2 separate regions of the Homo sapiens genome follow, and region 2 is linked to region 1. A link means that fine-mapping ties the variant in region 1 to the expression of a gene that starts in the linked region. Tissue or cell type: whole blood. Region 1 holds a variant in brackets; the other region holds the start of a gene. All regions are shown on one strand. Distances are from middle to middle.

Region 1 (5,000 bases):
AAATGGCTAACTCAAAACAAAAGCAGGGTCTCCGGAGTATTCCTAGGCATCCAGCAAATTGAGGGAAAGTTATTTTGGGTTAATCAATGTACTTCAGTTGCAATCACATCTTGCCCCATAGAAAAGACGGAAAACAAGGACTCACTGTTTGAAGTCTAACTCAGGGTGAACTAGGAAGTGACACTGACCTTCTTATGTTCTTCGTGTTTCACTATTTTATTTTTTTCTGAAAAATTACACCCTGCTTTGCATGAAGCCAAAAACAGTAGCCCCTCATGTTCCATTTCTCCCCCCAACCTGCTGATAGTTTATGTCTTTCCCACTCACACTGGCGATTACCAGAAGCCACTGGCAGCTTCCTTGAATGTCTTTACAGGCAAGGAGTCTATTCTCAGCCTGGTAGGGACTAGACATTGATTAATGGCTGGGAACTTTGGTTTCTGGCAAGACAAGCCTTAGTTTAAGCTGAGGAGGGCTTTGGGTGTTGGTCAGACTCTTGTCAAAGTCAAACTGGGAGGCACAATGGGTGTCTTGGACACAGCACCGTCACGCATGTCTTAGTCTCCTTCTGAGAAATGTGCCCCTGTGTATTAAGACCCAATATCATGGCCTTAACACTCCTTGAAACTAATGTTTACCAATCACTTCAGAGTTTAGAGAAAGTGTTCGCTTCTGAAAAGCTCTTTAACGTTGATGAGGCAATCATTTAAATTCCGAAGAACTGTGGAGCACAGATAAAGCGCATAATTCAATTTATTTCTGTTTAAAGCAATATACAATGAACTGCCATGTGTGAGATTCTGATGGGGTACCATCCTTTGGATGAACAGGATGAAACTGATAGAGGTGCTTTCTGACTTCAGGGAAATTAGACTGTCCTAATTTAGAGAGGAATCAGTATGATAAATGGTAGAACTGCTCATAGTGATAAGCCCTAACATTTTCATTATGTTCTGCAATATGCAAAGTACATGCATATAAGTGTATAGACAGCTAGCTACAAGGCCATTCTTTTCTCCTGGCAATGGATGCCAATGGTCTCTGATTGCTCTCCCACTGGTTCATCCAACCCAGTGGGAAAAATATCAGCTGGAGTCATGAGGTATTATGCAGGTGAAAACAATCAAGTGGTTGACTAAGAAAGTCTGGGCCTTTGGAGTCAGACTGAGATGTGAATCCTGACTGTTCTAACTCAAAGCCTGTCAAATGAGAGACACGTCCCTCTCCATCTTGTATGATACTTGCTTTATCAATTCCAGGTGTGCCTCATACAGAGGTGCTGGTCCATGCCTCAGCCTTGCCATGCTGTCCTCTACTCAGGTCCCCTGTCCTGTGCCATTGTACATCTTGTCTCCTGCCCCAGAGCTCCATGAAGAGTGTCGTCTTGCTCTTTGCAAAACATCTGCCTCTTTCTTTGTCTGGAGGAGGAGCTGCCAGGAAGGGAAGCTGCCAGGAAGAAGAGCAACTCAAGTTGGCCTACTTCCTGTTTTGAAACCCAGGGACTTGCTTGCAATCAAGGATGGGTTGTAGAGGCTTGAGGAAGATAGTTCCCAGCACCCCATGAATAAAGGGCTGGTTGTGGCGTGTGGTTCGCATGGCTGGCAGTGTGCTCTTGAGCCTATTTCTGGCTTAACAATATGCCCTCCCTCCATGGGGTTGCATTTTCTTAGAAATCCAAGATGCCAAGAAGGGCAATGTTGGTGGCCTGATCTGGTACAGGAAAGCTAGCCTGATGGTATGTGTTCCTCTACCTTTGATACTTAGTGTTTTCCTCCTTCCCTGTTCCCATGGAGAAGAAGCAGCAGGGCTACTGGGGCACCGAAGGAGAACTCACGACTTACTCCCTACAGCTTTCCAGAAGCACAATGCGTGGCCCTCATCTCTGGCACCACAGTCGCTCCCCTCTTTCAAGCCACATCATCTCTTGTTTGAATGCCTGCAATATCTCCTAGTCACTGTCCACGCCCTTGCCTTCCTGCAATACCTAGTCCATGCAACAGTATCATCTTTTCAGAATGCAACTGTGACCCAGGGCTGCCCAATCAGAGCATGACATCGCCTGGCCGGCATGACTGGTTGAGGGATGGCCTGTAATCTAAGCTAGTGAATAATTATAACTCTCACCTTTTAAGCTCTTGCTGTGTGCCAGACATGGGGCAAAACCCCTGACAACCAGCATCTCACTTCACCCTCACAATAATCCTATGCTGTCAGCACTATTATTATTAGAGGGGGTTAGTAGCTTGCCACAGGAATCTACTGAGAAAAGCGTCAGAACCTGAATTCAATACTTTCTAAATCCACAACCCATGTTTACAATGAAGTGTTAACAGAGACATAGAGCACCCTGTGGCTATTTTCTCCCAACAACAACACTTTTCACTATGTCTTCTAGTGAGGCCAGTGTTGTGGTGCCATGTAGACAAAGCCAAAAACAAAAAAACAGGGGCTGGGGGGACCTGCTGAACAGCCTGGCTACCCAGGGCTTATCAGCGAGATTGTCCTCCCTCCTGCAAGCAAGGTAAGGCATATATGCCCCCTAACAGTAGTAGGTTTTATTTTTTTTTTTCTGAATAAAAAGCCACCACATTGTAGTAATCTGCTACATCTTGGTGGACTGATCAGTTTCTCCTCCTGAAATTGATCTGGACATATTTTTGCATTTATCCTGGGATGGAACCTCCTGCAAGATTCCTCCTTTTTGGTTTGGTTTGAAACACAATGGTTTGCCACCATTACCGATATCCTCAGCACACTTAGCAGGCTGTCCCAAGAGTGGAAGAGTCCCGTCGTGCACTGGGCCAGGAATCTGGGGTCAGAAGGACCAGTGTGAAGAGCTGTGTAACTCCAACACAGCACAGGAGCTAGCTAAACCCATCTCTCAATAGGAGAAGAACCCTACCTCTCAGGGCTGGAGGAGGGCTGCACTCATTTCTGTCCATGCTTAGTCAAGTGCCTGGCACACACCCTCCTAAAGACTAAGTAAATTGTAGCTCTTTTTATTCATTGTTCTACTGAGAGGAAGAGT[T/G]GATTTTAAACTCATGATTATTGGCTTAATTAATTTATACCCCAAAATTCAAACACATGTTGCTGATATATAAGTAGCCCAGTCCTTCCACTTTTTGTCTCCCTTTCTTTTTTTTTTTTTTTTTTTTGAGACAGAGTCTTGCTCTGTCACCCAGGCTGGGGTGCAGTGGCACAATCTTGGCTCACTGCAAGCTCTGCCTCCCGGGTTCACCCATTCTCCTGCCTCAGCCTCCCGAGTAGCTGGGACTACAAGCGCCCGCCACCACGCCTGGCTAATTTTTTTTGTATTTTTAGTAGAGACAGGGTTTCACTGTGTTAGTCAGGATGGTCTCGCTCTCCTGACCTCGTGATCCACCCGCCTCGGCCTCCCAAAGTGCTGGGATTACAGGCGTGAGCCACTGTGCCCAGTCCTGTCTCCCTTTCTTAATAAAAAAATTACTCCTCCTATAAAATGATCACTAACACCACTGATAGGGTTTGGCTGTGTCCCCACCCAAATCTGATCTTGCACTGCGGCTCCCATAATTCCCATGTGTTGTGGGAGGGAATCAGTGGGAGATAATTGAATCATGGGGGCGGTTACCCCCATACAGTTCTTGTGGTAGTGAATAAGTCTCATGAGATCTGTTGGTTTTATAAGGGGTTTCTGCTTTCACTTGGCTCTCATTCTCCCTGCCTGCCGCCATGTAAGACCTGCCTTCCGCCATGATTGTGAGGCCTTCCCAGCCACCTGGAACTGTGAGTCCATTAAACCTCTTTTTCTTTATAAATTACCCAGTCTCAGGAATGTCTTTGTTACCACTGATTTCTATTTTTTAAACTGGAAAATGCACATGACATCACTTATTTCTCCCTATATAAAAACCCATGATGAGGTACTTAGAGGTACCAGAAATCACAGAGACAGAAAGCAGAATGGTGGTTGTCAGCAGCTGGAGGGAGGTGGAAATGGGGAGTTCTAGTTTAATGGGTACATAGTTTCAGTTTTACGGAATGAAAAGAATTATGGACATGGATGGTGGTGATGGTTGCACAATACTATGAATATATTTAATGGCACTAAACTGTATATATTAAACACAGTTAAGGTAGTAAAATTTTATGTTATGCATATTTACCACAAATTTAAAAACTGGAAAAAACTCATTGTAGTTTTCTGATTATATATTCAACATCCGGGCGAGGCACAGTGGCTCACATCTGTAATCCCAGTGCTTTGGGAGGCCGAGGCAGGAGGATCACTTGAAGCCAGAAGTTCAAGACCTGGTCAACATAGCAAGAATCTACAAAAAAAAAAAAAAAAAAAAAAAAAATCAACTTAGCCAGGCATGATGACATGTGTTTGTAGTCCCAGCTATTTGGTAAGCTAAAGAAGGAAGATTGCTTGAGCCCAGGAGTTCAAGCCTGCAGTGAGCTCTGATCATGCCATTGCACTCTAGCCTGAATATATAAAATACAAAAAAAAAAAAAATTCAATAACCATGTATTCCAGAAAATTTAGAAAATTCATAAGATCACTGAGAAAGTAATATGTCACTAACATTCTCATCCTACTACCTAAATAGTTGTAATCAATGATTTGGTGTATTTACTCAAAATTTTCTGTCTATGTATACTTATGTTTTTAAAAATAAATAGGATTATCTCATGTTAAAAAAATGTAAGTCATTTCCAATTCAGGTGCCAAAGAAAGTTTTACTTCTGGGTAGGGCACAGTGGCTCACACCTGTAATCCCAGCACTTTGGGAGGCTGAGGCGGGTGGATCACAAGGTCAGGAGTTCAAGACCAGCCTGGCCAAGATGGTGAAATCCCATCTCTACTAAAAATACAAAAATTAGCTTGGTGTGGTGGTGGGCACCTGTAATCCCAGCTACTCAGGAGGATGAGGCAGAGAATTGCTTGAACCCGGGAGGCAGATGTTGCAGTGAGCTGAGATCGTGCCACTGCACACCAGCCTGAGTGACAGAGCGAG
Region 2 (5,000 bases), 52 kb after region 1:
TTCTTCTTTCACTCTGGTCTCTCCTGCCGCCTTGTGAAGAAAGTGCTTGCTTCCCCTTCGCCTTCCGGCATGATTGTAAGTTTCCTGAGGCTTCCCCAGTCACGTGGAACTGTGAGTCAATTAAACCTCTTTCCTTTATAAATTACCCAGTCTTGGGCATTTCTTTATAGCAGTGTGAAAATGGACTAATAAAACTTTTTAGGAGTCCAGCACTTCACATGTATCCCATGTAATTTACAAACTTAGCAAGAGAGGAAATATCATTCACATTTTATCTAGAAGGAACCAAGGGCTTATAGAGGTGATGCCCAGTTTTGCACAGCTAGGAAGCAGCAGAGCTGGGATTCAAATTCAGGGCTGTTTGGTTCCAAAGGTGCTCTTTTTTCCAAGTCATGGCTGCCATTTTAGCCACTGATAATTAGTAGCTCTGAGGGACCCTAAACCATCTTCTGGGCATGGAACATTCATTTGTTCATTCAATAAATGTGTTCTGAGTTTTGAGTCTGCTCTGTGCCAGACCCTCTTCTGGCCACTGGGGACATAAAGATAAATCAGACACAACCTCTGCCCTTAAGAAACTAACCCACTGACAACCAGCAGTAATTAAAAGAGAGCAATCTACAAGACATTAGAGAGAGGGCCAGTCAAGGAAACCATTCTGGCGGAAAAGACACCTGACGGAACCAGCTAAGTTTCCAGGCATGTCCAGTTGTAGGGAATAAACAGCAGGTAAGACCCAATCTCTATGCTCAAAGAATCCATAGTAGAGTTACAGAGACAAGACTCATGCTCATGGCACAATGAAAGAGAATAAAATCACCGATTGAAGGCCCTCAGGTGTTCTACACGGAAGTGATGGAGGATTGACAGACTGAGGCAGAAGTTGAGACCATTAGAGGAAGGCTATGGAAATGAAATGGAAGCCACCTTTGTTCATACTATTTTTCATTAATCTTGGTATCTTTTTTTTCCCTCTAGTTGTGCCAGTTACTTCTGGCTCTACCCTGATTTCTTTGTTCATTTTTCTTCCTGCTAAAGGAAAATACTCACTTATTTAACATATTTAAAGCTGTGCTGAGAGCAAAGCATTATCCTAAGCCCTGATGGTGGTCATAGCGTTGGGAATGTACAAAGATAAACAGGACATTAAAGCCCTTGAGTACCAAACATAATGAAAAGTCTGATATGTGAGCTCCAAACCAAATGGCAAAAGGAAGGAAATAATTAATTCAGACTTGGAAACAGGAGTGAGGGGTGGGGGGTGGGTGACGGGTGGAAGGGGTGGCAGTGGGTTGGGGGGCTGTCACTCAGGGAAGACTTCATTGTTGCTGGTTTGTTCATTCACGTTTTCAGGATTCATTCACTGATGTCTCCTATCTACAATGTCTGCTCCTGAAAGAGCCCACGGTCCAGCACAGGTCTGGAAGACATAAACCATCACAATATAGTGTGAGAAACAAGCACGAGAGGTACACAGGGCCGTGGACGCTTATAAGAGAGAATTCAGAAGATGCTGTTGGTGGCTTTTGAACTGATTCCTAGAAATAAATAGGAATTTACCAAAGGAGAAGAGTGGAAAGGACATGTAAAAAGGCATTGAGAGTGTGTTTGGAGGGGGAAGAGGCACTAAGATATACCACCCATTAGGTAGAAAGGCTTGAATACCAGACTAACAAGTTTGGCCTTTATCTTCGAAATAATGGGCAACCATAGAAGAAATCGGAGCATGTGAGGGTCAAGATAAAATTTTAGTTTTGGAATTTTCCCTCTGGTATTGCGTGTAAGGTGTACTAGATCGGGATGATACGGGGGCATAGCCACAGACGCCTCAGCTGCATCTCTGCACCTGGGAGACTGCACCAGATGCGAGCCTAGCAGAATGGGAGAGTGGGAGGTGCGGGTGAGCGAATGGAAGGTTAAGGGAGAGTCCCTCGTGAGGTCTACATTCTGGGCAAGGGCAAACGCAGTTCTAGGCACCGCACAGCTGCTGGCAAGACCCGCCTCCCCTTCCAGATCCCTCTGGGGCGGAGCTCGGGCCAGAGCACGTGATGCTTGGAGCACCACCTTTACTGTGGGCACCCTTCTCATTCATCCGCGGTTTCACGGGCCGCCACTTCGATCTCCAACACCTTGACCGTATGCCTTCGTGAGCGAGGAATCCGTTCTCCTTGACACGTCCCTATTGCTCCTCCTGCAAAGCCCAGTTAGGGAAGAGAAATATCAAAGGAGTCCCTTGCCCACACAAAAGATGGCGACCTGCTGCGCTCACTCTGGGTGGGGGAAGCGGGTTCCAGGCGCCGGGCCTCACTAGGCGAGGCGCAGACGGAAGAGGCGTCTCTGGAGGTAACTTTTCGACCTTCCTGGGAGTAGCTCTGAAGCGAGGGGGCGTGGCCTCGCCTGAGTTCTAACAGATGATTGGTCTTCCGGCAGGTAGGTGGGGAATGAGTGCTACCCCCACCCCTCCCTCTTCGAACCGGAAGTGTCTCTGGGTCTTTCCAGCTGGTTGTCATTTCACTCGGCTCGGTCCTGAGGAGAAGGACTCAGCCGCGGCTGCGGGACCCGGGCACCGGGAGGCGGTGGCGGCGGCGGCGGCGGCAGCAGCGGCGACAGCAGAGGAGGAAGAGGAGGAAGAAGGAAAGAAAAAGAAGAACCAGGAGGAGTCCTCAACAACGACAGCGGGGACTGCGGGACCAGGGTAAAGCGGCGACGGCGGCGACGGCCCAGCAACCGTGAGGAGAAACAAAAGCCTTCTAAATTATAGTTTAAAAAAAAATTCTGGGGGAAAAGAGAGAGAAAGCCGAGGGGGGAGGCCCTTCTCCTTTAAAATAACTACGGTAGTGGGTTTTTCCTTTTTTTCCTCTTTTTTCCCTCTCTGCGGAGAATCGAACTGAGGGAACTGAACAAACCGCCCCTGGGTCCCATGAGGGAAAAAAACCCCGGAGCCGCAGAGAGGGGAAGAGGCAGAAACCGCAGGACCTTCCAGGTCGCCCCCTCGGTCCCCGCACCCCCAGGCCGCCCGCTCACCCTCGTCGAGTCTCGCTAATCCCTCCTGATCGCGACCCCCGCAAGAGGGAGAAACGGGTGTTTCCAACCCCTTTCATGGGGGAGAGGAAGCCGCGGGGAGCCCAGGAACAGCGACCGCAGCAAGATCTGCACCCGGAGCCTCAGGAACAGCCCCAGAGGCCAAAACTGCACCCTGCGAAAGAGCAGAAAACAGGACCAGGAACAGCAGAAACCTCCCTGCAATCATCTTTCCATTAGTCAATGCTGATTTCCTCTCCCGAAACCAGGAATTCACTTCCCACCCCAGATAACCTAATATAATCTATATATATAAATATATAATATATAATGTTCTTAAATTATTCCTGATTTTTTTTTAACCAAGCTGCCAAGAAAAGAACGTATTCCCCTCTTAGTCCTATTCTAATTTTTATGTGAGTGAATCTAAACTGCTGAGGAAAACCATATGTGATTGTTAAATTATATATATCTATATTTTTACTCCGCGCAAGGCTTATTCTTCTACATCCATAGATGCTTGAGAAGCTCTGTTTTTGTCATTCATGTACATTTTCCTTTGGAAAAAGAAAGCGCCTATTTTACTAACCAAAGACTTGATTTTTACCCTCTTCATTTTTATTCCCTCCTAAAAATAAGCCCAATTGGATCCAAGTCAATGTTTTAAGAGATTTTTTTAAGAGTTGTTTTTTCTTTCAGAGACCAGAATTCCAAATCAGAACAATTTAAGGTGATAAGCTGCGATCTTTGAGCTAGCTATAAATAAGACATTTCAAGCAAGCAAGCAAACAACTTAAATTTGGGGTAGAGGAAAAAAAAGGCGTGAGACATCAGGTTGTCATTTTTTATTGTGAGATTCTGCTCCTAAAGATAATAAATGGGGGATTACGGGTTTGGAGTGCTAGTGCAAAGCAATACTGGGAATAAATCTGCTTTTCCAGTCAGATTCCATCCACATCTGCAGCCTCCACACCATCACCAAAATGCCACCCCCAGCCCTGCTGCTTTTATAAATAATAACACAGCTGCCAATGGCAGCAGTGCTGGGTCAGCTTGGCTTTTTCCTGCTCCAGCTACCCATAACATTCAGGATGAGATCTTGGGGTCAGAAAAAGCAAAAAGTCAGCAACAGGAACAGCAAGACCCCTTAGAAAAGCAGCAGCTTTCCCCAAGTCCAGGTCAGGAAGCTGGAATACTGCCTGAAACAGAGAAGGCAAAATCAGAAGAAAATCAAGGGGACAATTCTTCGGAAAATGGCAATGGGAAGGAGAAAATAAGGATCGAATCTCCAGTGTTGACAGGGTTTGATTATCAAGAAGCCACTGGGCTAGGTACTTCAACCCAACCCTTGACATCTAGCGCATCGTCTCTTACTGGTTTCAGTAACTGGTCAGCAGCGATAGCGCCTTCCTCCTCTACAATAATCAATGAAGATGCAAGTTTCTTTCACCAGGGAGGGGTCCCTGCTGCTTCGGCTAATAACGGTGCTCTGTTGTTTCAAAATTTCCCCCATCATGTCAGCCCTGGCTTTGGAGGCAGCTTCTCTCCTCAGATCGGGCCTCTCTCACAGCACCACCCACATCACCCTCATTTCCAGCATCATCACAGCCAGCATCAGCAGCAAAGGAGGTCTCCTGCCAGTCCCCATCCCCCACCCTTCACACATAGAAATGCTGCTTTTAACCAGCTGCCTCATTTGGCGAATAATCTTAACAAACCCCCCTCTCCGTGGAGCAGCTACCAGAGTCCGTCACCAACACCCTCCTCTTCCTGGAGCCCGGGCGGTGGTGGATATGGTGGCTGGGGAGGTTCCCAAGGCCGAGATCACCGCAGAGGGCTGAATGGTGGAATAACGCCCCTGAACTCCATCTCGCCTTTGAAGAAAAATTTTGCAAGCAATCATATTCAGCTCCAGAAGTATGCTCGCCCCAGCTCTGCCTTTGCACCTAAATCCTGGATGGAAGATAGCTTGAACAGGG

What was found. PIP is the estimated chance that this variant, and not a neighbour inherited with it, causes the effect.
Region 2: it holds the start of CPEB4, and the variant in region 1 is fine-mapped to the expression of CPEB4 in whole blood (INTERVAL, PIP above 0.99).

Annotation. Positions count from the first base shown.
Region 1 is chr5:173,833,840-173,838,839 of GRCh38, forward strand. No RefSeq gene overlaps it. Among named protein-coding and RNA genes, the nearest start is that of LINC01485, 45 kb to the left of the region's middle. RefSeq lists a silencer at 1,867-2,161. The variant T/G (reference allele first, on the strand shown) is at 3,029.
Region 2 is chr5:173,885,836-173,890,835 of GRCh38, forward strand. It overlaps CPEB4 (cytoplasmic polyadenylation element binding protein 4), which reads left to right and starts at 2,514. Exons shown (of 10, transcript NM_030627.4): 1 at 2,514-5,000. The coding sequence starts at 3,899. RefSeq lists enhancers at 2,021-2,260, 4,285-4,786, 4,787-5,000 and a silencer at 4,791-5,000.